Regions from separate parts of the Homo sapiens genome. Here region 1 is linked to region 2. The links come from fine-mapping of genetic effects on gene expression. A gene starts in region 2. The other region holds a variant in brackets. All regions are shown on one strand. Distances are between the middles of the regions.

Region 1 (4,381 bases), 23 kb before region 2:
CCCCCCCACTCAGCAAGAATGACCAGATGGGCTGGGACCAATTCATACTTGTTTTGACTCAAGAACCTCTGTATATAATGAGGTCTCATCAAGGTCATCACTTTTGTTAAGCTCGTTTTTTATGCCTAGCCAGAATTCTTAGTTAGCATAACTCAAGAATATGAATAATATATGTTATCATTGATTCATGCAAATTTAACTGATGGTCTCTCTTCATGTTTGTGTAATAAGTCAAAGTGCACATTGGTACTTAGCTGGGAAGGTGGTTGGCCCTTGAGTGGATGAATGGATATATCAATGATGGATGGATGGATGGATGGATGGATGAATAATGGCTGGCTGGATGGCTGGATGGATAGATATATCAATGATGGATGAATGGATAGATGGATAAATCAATGATGGATGGATGAGTGAATAATGGCTGGATGAAATAATGGATAAATTGATGCATGAATGGATGGACGGATGATGGATGGGTGTGTAAATAAATGGATGGATGATGAGTGGATGGATGCATGGATGTATGAATGAATGGGTGGATGATGGATGGATGTGTAATGGCTGAATGAATAAATGGATGGATGGATGGATGGATGGATGAATAAATGAATGGACTATAGGAAGAAGAGTGGACCAGGCCCCATGGCCTTACTGGCTGTGTGACTGCAGGCAAGTCACTCCTCCTCTCTAAGCCTCGCACTTGCTCCCCTGGAAAATGATGTCTCCCTCCCCAGCTGTGTGTGGCCCAGGGACAGCCAGGGATGAGAGGAAACACCCGTGTTCCTCAGATGCCACATCCCGGGGTATAAATGACCTGGGAGCTTTCTGCGCTGGTTACCTCCCTTGGCCTTCTGCACAGGGGCACCTCTTGCCCTCAAATTCCAGTGCTGTAGGGAGAGCCTCTGCCTCCTGCCCAGAGCATGTTACAGTTGGAGAGGGAACATAGTGAGCCTTGGGGGCCAGGGTGTGGCCAGGTGGCCTCTGGCCCCTGGTAAGAGATAGAGCCTTTGGGCTCATGGTGTTCATGCTGCCCAGACCAGTAGGATGAAGACTGGCTGAGGCTGCCAGCACTGAAAAGGCCCTGAGTCCATAAACAAAGAGCAGGTGCATTTTTCAGTAACTGGTGATGACCAAGGGTCAAATGGAGGCTGCTTCTAAAATAACCGATTCTGTTTGAGTGGGGAGGCCGAGCTGGGCGGATCACTTGAGGTCAGGAGTTCGAGACTAGCCTGGCCAACATGGTGAAACCCCTGTCTCTACTAAAAATACAAAAATTGGCCTGGTGTGGTGGCCCATGCCTGGAGTCCCGGCTACTCGGGAGGCTGAGGCAGGAGAATTGCTTGAACCCAGGAGGCAGAGGTTGCAGTGAGCCGAGATCGTGCCACTGCACTCCAGCCTGGGCAACAAGAGCAAAACTCTGTCTCAAAAAAATAAAATAAAATTTCTTGTTTGTTTTATATCTTTTCAGCCACTAGATCAATGTCTCCATTATTATGAAATAACCTAGTCTGCCACCCTACATTTTGAAGTAAGATGGATATCTGGAGAAATTCTTCTTTATACATATAGTGGTTGCACATGCCCAGCGGGACGTGGCCTGCACCAAGCAGCTCCCTGAGGCCCCCAGCTCTGCCCAGGACCCCAAACACCCCACCAACTTGTGCACCCGAAGGTGGAGCGGCCCAAGCCCTTTCCCGAAACGGGGCCAGGCCAGGCTCTCCCAAGGGCACTCACTCAGCTCGTGCTGGCCGGGGCGGCTGGAGAACTCGATGACCAGCAGCTCCCTGCCGTCGAAGCTGCGCCCGATGCTGTAGGTCCTGGCCACGTGGGCGCAGCGGGAGGCCGTCCGCCTCAGCACACGCACCATCTGGGCGTAGGAGTGGTGGCTGAAGCGGATGAAGGTGGGCGGCAGCCCTGAGGGCAGTGCCTCGTCAGCCTCCAGGCCTCCTGGGGGAGCAGTGGGGGGGCTCAGTCAGTGTCAGGCCCCCAGGCTTCCTACCACTGCCTGGGAACGCTGACCACACACAGCACCCTTAGTCCCCTCTGCACGACAGCCATGCTTGGACATCTCTATCTTTAATTAGAGTTCCCTCTGCAGTGCCTACAACGATATCTAAGCCAAACGGCACCTGAGGTATGTACACAGCACAGCGCCATGGTTCCTAACGTGACTGTGAGTAAACATACTATGGGGCCACTGTGGGAAG[C/T]TCCTAAAATACGGAGCAGGACAACAGAAAGGAAGACAGATATATGGGGTCCTGGACCCCCCAAGGCAAACCCCTGCTGGGTGTGCAGAGGGGATTTTCCTGGGCGTGTTTTCCATGACAGTGGCACTCAGGCAGTTCAGTATTCTGCTTCATTTGCTTGGCTAATGGTGGAAACAGGAAGGCTCCTTGTGGTGCCCCCTCCGGCTGCTGTGAGGCTTCCCAGTGTTTCTGTTACAACCTCATCGGTACAACAGTGAGTGCCTGTCCAGGAAGGAAACAGAAAGGGGGGCTCTGGGAAGTACTTGGGGGAGGAAGAAAAAAGGGGGCTGGGGAAGAGGGAGGGGTTCTGGAACTAGAATACGAACGTCTCTACACCACATACGCACCAGCTTCCCCACCATCCTGTCATCCACTAGAACAGAGGTGCCCTGAGGGCCACCCCGATGACGCTTAGCTCCCTCCACCCCGCCAGGGGCTTTGCAGCAGTCAGGCCCACAGGAGCAGGACGCAGGTGCCCGCAGGCTGTTCCTGGGTCCACAGAGAGTTAATGTGCTCCTCTAAGCTTCTCCTTGCCCTGTGGTTTTGCTTCTGCTCAAAACGGTTCTCCAGGGGAAAGACTAGCAGAGGAAGCCGGCAATTTGGTGGTAGAGATGCCCAAAATAATCTCCAACCGACTCCTTGGGCTTTCCCAGGGCTGTGGGCTTGGCTTCCTTCCTCGCCTCCCTGGCCTCCCACAGGCAGCTCCACCACCTCTACAGGGACTGAGCTCTGCAGACAGACGGCTCCCACCTGCTGGCAAAGGGCACCCCCCCTACCGCTGCATCGCATGGGAGCCCAGGGTCCACCCTTCTCAGATTGGGAGCCAGAGGCTGCAAGACATGCCAGGTTCAGCCCTGAGCACCTGACATAGCCCGGAACCCAGGGCTTGCTGGAGCCCGGCCCGGGTGTTTGTCTGCCTTCCTTCTCCTGCCCTCCTCAATGTCCCAGCACAAAGCCACATGTACAGTGGGTGCTCGGTAGCTGTTTGACAAATGGCCAAATCCATCCCTCCATCCGCAATGGGCTTGGGCCACTCCAGCTAAAGACCCCACTGCTGTCACCCTTCCCGAGGCTCCACTTCCTCTTCCATGGAGCAAGGCTGTCGTGAGACTCGCGTGAGCTAGCACATGTGTGGCACCCGCAGTCAGATCCTCTGAACCCAACCATGAGCGGACACTGCCCTGCACAGTTGAATGTGGCACACACTGGCCCTAGGCTCTTCAAAGACAGGTTCAGACTCATTCAAATGCGATGAAACGCCCACATCCAGGCCTCAGTGGCAAGAGCCACATCCCAAGCCTTGGGGGCCACATGCGGCCAGTGGTAACTGTCTTGGACAGAACACAATAGAACATTTCTTTTACACAGAAAGGTCTAACGGGCCAGGACTGCTGCGGATCATGCAGGGTCTCTGGTGGACACCGACTCGTGAGACAACAGACACAGGGGACTCCATGCAGGGCCCCCAACCAGCCCCGCTGCCAAGTGGCCCTCTGGCACCTCTTTGCACACCTCAGAGACAAGTGGCCCATGGTGGCCCAGTCTTGCCCACTCCCCCTCCACTGTTTCATCTGCAAGAGACATCAAAGCATTTCTCCACAGCTCCTCTCCCTCCTTGAGCCCACAGGGCGGTGCAGACCCTGCTTGGAGGAGTCACTCCAAGCCAAACCCTCTGTGTGATCTTCCAGGCCCAGCGATGAGCAATCGTGAAGCTTTGCCCGCCAGACCTCCCGGGGGATGTAAATGCCCCGCCCCCCCTTGACCAGGGGTAAGCACTATGGTTCTGGAGGGTCTGTGGCTGAGGACTGGACCCCCAGGGCCAGCCCTGCACTCTGAGCCCAGGCTCCCCCACACGAGGCCTGCTCACTGCACCCTGGGCGGGGGCACTGCCCCCACTTGGACTCAGCACCCTTCCACCCCAGCCTGCCTCTAAGGGGCTGGAGACTTCTGCTAGGGGGCCCTGGGCAGCGAGAGGATCCTCCATCTGCACTGAGCCCCCGACCCTGCCTGGCACCCTTTTGTGGGGAACATGCTGCCTCGGGGAGCAGCCCCGCCCTCTACCAATGCCTGCACCGTCACTGTCGATGGAAAAGCCCTCAAGTTCCTTCCAGTGTGGCTCTTGGTCCTCCTTG
Region 2 (4,321 bases):
GCACAGCACTGTGATGATGGTACCAGCAGGCCCTTTACACACACTCTTTCCCAAATTACCTGTGACTCCAGGTAATTCTGACCTGACAAGCACTCAGGCCAAGGTCTCCAGGAAAGAGAGAAGCAAAGAGAACACTCACCTGGCAGTGTTACTGCCCCGAGGCTCCAGCTGGAGCTTCCACCCAGATTCCCAACTCCACGCCCAGGAGATGCGGAGTCTGAGGCCTGAGTTAGTCCCAGGTTGCCTGATTTTGAAAGCTTTCTAGGTTTAAAGAGCCAGGTGCTGATTCACAGACCCCATATCTGCCTGTGCCTGGACAAGGAGAGTCTCCTCATTTATAGGACAGGATGGGAGCCAGTGCCACCTCCCTCCCAGGATCTTTCCCAGGAGCTGAAGCACAGCCCTGAGCCCGTCAGGTGTGGAGGAGGGTCCTCTGGTGGTGGCCGCCCTCCAGATATCTTGCTGGGAAACCTCAGAGGCCTACTCAACTGAGGCCAAGCCCACCCAGCTGTTCCCACAACAGGAGCCGGACTGCCAGGACCCACCTGGTCATGACATACGGGGCAAAGCAGATGAGGAAGGTCGCAATAGCAATGCCAATCTTCCTGGTGGCGCGGTGGCGGCGCCGCTTCTGCTGGATGAGGCAGCGCTGCCGCACACTGTGGGGACAGAGGACAGTGGTCAGGATGATGGCAGGGTGGGGACAGAACCCAGGCCCAGAGCCCAGGGGCTGAAGTGAGGGCAGACAGGAGGGTTTCAGGAGGATGTTTAGCCTGGAACCTGAGGAGGACAGAGGGATGGGGGAGAGAGAAAGAACAAGGGGTAGGCTTGCTTTTTTGTAGGTGAAATAAAGGAAGTCTGGAAAGAAGGGCCAGCTCCTCCTCCCTTCCCTCTGGCTCATCCTTCTCCACACAGAGGCAACTGAGGCAGGCTGCTGATGGAGGGGCAAGGCTGGGGCCCTCAAGGAGGGAGAAGTCACGTGGCCTGCCCACCCCAGGAGCAGGAGAGCCTCTTGGGTGTTCTGTGGGGGGCCAAGGGGGAAAGGGGAACACCTACAGGAGGTAATTTGGAACAATGGCGACACCAGCTAGAGATTCAGGAGACAAATCCTGCCAAGTAGTGAGCAGAAAGCATGGGGGATGGACCCTGCTCAAGACTTGAAGCCCAAGTCCATGCAAGGGCACTGGGTCAGCAGTGGGCAGAAACAAGCAGATGCCTCAGACCCACAGCCATGCACAGGAGGGGTGTGTCTGGCCGCCCACAGCAGAGCCCGCGGAACCCCTCCCGGAGAAGCACACCCCACAGCTCTGCGCAAAGCTCCCTGTGCACTGAGCACATATCCCAGGAGGCAGAGGCCCCCGCAGTGTCTGCACCAATGAACCAACAGGAAACCCCTGTGAGCAGCGTGCAGGGGCAGTGCTGTGGCTGGTGAACTCTGGGCGGAGTAACGGTGGTGATGCCCACAGGCTCCTCAAGCCAACTGCCCAGGGAGCGCCCAAGTCCCTGGCCTGGGCCTGTCGGCATGCACTGGGCCAATACCTGGGGTGCAGGTCGGCGAGCAGCGCGAGCGCCTTCATGGTGACGGTGTCCATGCGCTGGCAGTGTCTGCGTGCCACCCGGTGCACCTGGAGCGAGGTGAGGCAGAGCACCGCCAGCGGCAGCACGAAGCCCACGGCATGGAGCGTGGCGGTGAAGGCTGCGAAGCGCGGACGCTCAGGCTCGGGCGGCAGGCGCAGCGAACAGGACGCGAAGGCGCTGCTGTAGCCAAGCCACGAGCAGCCAAGTGCAGCGCCTGAGAAGGCCAGCGACTGTCCCCAGGCACAGCCCAGCAGCAGGCCGGCATAGCGCGGTCGCAGGCGTCCGGCGTAGCGCAGTGGGAAGCCCACTGCCAGCCACTGGTCTGCGCTCAGCGCCGCCACGCTCAGCGCCGCGTTGGACGCCAGGAAGGTGTCCAGGAAGCCAATGACTTGGCATGCGCCGGGCGCCGACGGTGTCCGCCCGCGCATCACACCGAGCAGCGTGAAGGGCATGTCCAGCGCCGCCAGCAGCAGGTGGCCCAGAGACAGATTCACCAGGAGGACGCCTGAGGCTCGAGTGCGGAGCTCAGCGCTGTAGGCGCAACAAAGCAGCACCAGTGCGTTGGATAGCAGCGCCACGGCCAGTACCATCACCAGGAGACCCGCCAGCAGCGCCTCGCCGGGGCCCATGGCGCTAGCGGCTCGCCAGGCACCCTGGGGTTCTCATGGCTCTGCTTCGGGCGCGAGCCTGGGAAAGTGAGGCGATGGAGCAGCTGAGCGGCGCGCCCACGGCTTCTGGGAGGTGCAGAGCCGGCTAGCAAGGTCCAGAGCAGCGCGAGGAAAGCGGCGGCAAGTGCAGGGTCCGGGGCACCCGGGGGGAGGGCGTAGCTCTGCGGAGCAGGAGCAGCCCGGGGCCGCCCTGGAGGCAGCGCAACCGCGGTGCTGTCCAGGGTGCTGAATGCGCTCACCGTCCCGGCAGGACTGTCCTGAGGCTGAAGCGAGGCGCAGGGGCGCGGGGCGTAGGGGCGAGGGAGGTCTCTTTCCTAACACTGTATCTTTCCTTCTTCTCTCCTCGTGGCGTGGCAGGATGGGACTCTGCGCGCTTCTGTTCCGGGCCAGGTCAGTCCCTGCCCTGGTCACACCTCCAGCCGAGCCTCCCAGCCCTGGTTCGCGCGCAGCTGACACGCCAGCAAGAGCCACTCAGTGGATCCTAGGCAGCACAGCCCTCGCCACGCCTCTCCCTCCAGGCGCTGGCACCAAACTGGAGCGACCTGGTGGCTTATAGGGGCGGTAGGGGCGGGAATGAATTGGCAAGAAGCTGTGCAGGCGGGGCAGAGGGAGTGACGGGGCGGGGAAGGGGGCGGGGGCTGCCCTCAGGACTTCCTCCCATCCCCCAGCCTCAGCCCAGGAACTGTGACTGCATCGACGTTTGTTGAAGCAAGAAGAGCGACAAGAAGTGGAAACAAGGTTGAGAAAGGCATGGGGGAAGGAAAGAGAAGAAGAAGAAAAAGTGAAGAAAAAGTGAAGAGGAAGTGGGGGGAAGAAGAGGGAAGAGGAGAGAAAAGCAACAGAGGGAGAGACAAAGAAGGGGGCACCTTGGGAGGACCCACCCAGAACTGGGTGCCATACAGAAATGCCTGTCCTTCACCTGGCTCCTGGAGCCCCGCGGTGCGAGGCCTCTCCCACCTCCGCCATCCTCTGTGGTGGCTTCTGAGCCTTCTCACCCAGTGGGAATCTTCTAATCCATTCGTGGCCACTTGGCAGGACAAGGATATGGTGAAGCCTCCTGGAAGCTGCTTCTTCCAGGAAGCTTTTTGGCATTTTCTCCCCAGTGACAGCCACAACATGACAGAAATGAAGGGCAGACGATTGCCCACCCCTCCCCACACCCACCCTCACCTGCAGGCTCTGCCAGCCCTTTCTGAGGGACAAAGGGTGGCTGGTGGTGTGGAGGCTCACCCTGTGGGCCTCTCTCGTGCCGGTGCTGCAAAGTGGCCAAGGGAAAAGCCACAGGTGCACAACTGGCATGCTGGGGCACCCCTGGTTCTGTGCCTTGGGCCTCACATTCTCATCTGTCACATGGGGATATTCATAGCCCCACTTAAACCCCTTGGGCCTCACATTCTCATCTGTCACATGGGGATATTAATAGCCAGCAATAGCATCTGCCTCTGGTGGTTGCTGTTAGGGTTAAATTGGCCAACATGCACAAAATGCTGAGGACATCCCAGCAGGCAGTGAAGGATCAGAACACAGTCAACCTTTATTAGGGGGTCCGTCTTATACCTGGGCAAAGGAAGTTTCATTCAAGTGTCTCTGCCAAGTCCCCATAACTACAAACCAGGAATGCCGAGATTCATACCTCAGTCCTTCTGGCTCTAAGTCCAATGTCCTTGTCATCCAGAGAGGCCATCACACCAGCTCCAAGCCATTGCCATCCATCAAATACAGAGGCTTTCTCTCTCCCCATTTCTCCCTGGCACTCCCACAAACCTGCTTTCAAATTTTCACCAAATTAGACCTTCCCTGAAGCTAGAGCAGCCACGTCAAAGTTTTCCTGACATGTCCAGGAAGAGTGGGCCACTCTGCAGCTTCTGCAGATCAAGCAAGTTTGCAGGTGAATAGCTGGGACAAAGTGATTGTGATAGTGGGGGCTTGAGAGCAGGGGCCTCCCCCAACCCCTCCAAGGCTTCTGAGCGACCATGTGCAGCTCTGGGGAGCGGTGGAGTCATCACGTGGCTTCACAGGGAGACTTTGGTCTAGCCACTCACAGCAGCCTCTGTCACCTCTCAACTACTCCAAAG

Alleles and levels. Alleles are on the strand shown, and positions count from the first base shown. SD is a standard deviation of normalised expression in the study named.
For the expression in ovary of the gene that starts at base 2,798 in region 2, allele T in region 1 goes with a higher level than allele C (moderate effect, 0.61 SD a copy in GTEx).

Evidence for each region.
Region 1: its variant is fine-mapped to the expression of GPR78 in ovary (GTEx, PIP above 0.99).

The regions. Positions count from the first base shown.
Region 1 is chr4:8,601,545-8,605,925 of GRCh38, reverse strand. It overlaps CPZ (carboxypeptidase Z), which reads right to left. Exons shown (of 11, transcript NM_001014447.3): 4 at 1,738-1,950. It overlaps LOC124900659 (a long non-coding RNA gene), which reads left to right. Exons shown (of 3, transcript XR_007058014.1): 3 at 1-199. Among named protein-coding and RNA genes, the nearest start is that of CPZ, 11 kb to the right of the region's middle. The variant C/T (reference allele first, on the strand shown) is at 2,211.
Region 2 is chr4:8,578,869-8,583,189 of GRCh38, reverse strand. It overlaps GPR78 (G protein-coupled receptor 78), which reads right to left and starts at 2,798. Exons shown (of 3, transcript NM_080819.5): 1 at 1,540-2,798; 2 at 546-659. The coding sequence starts at 2,207. RefSeq lists an enhancer at 1,977-2,638.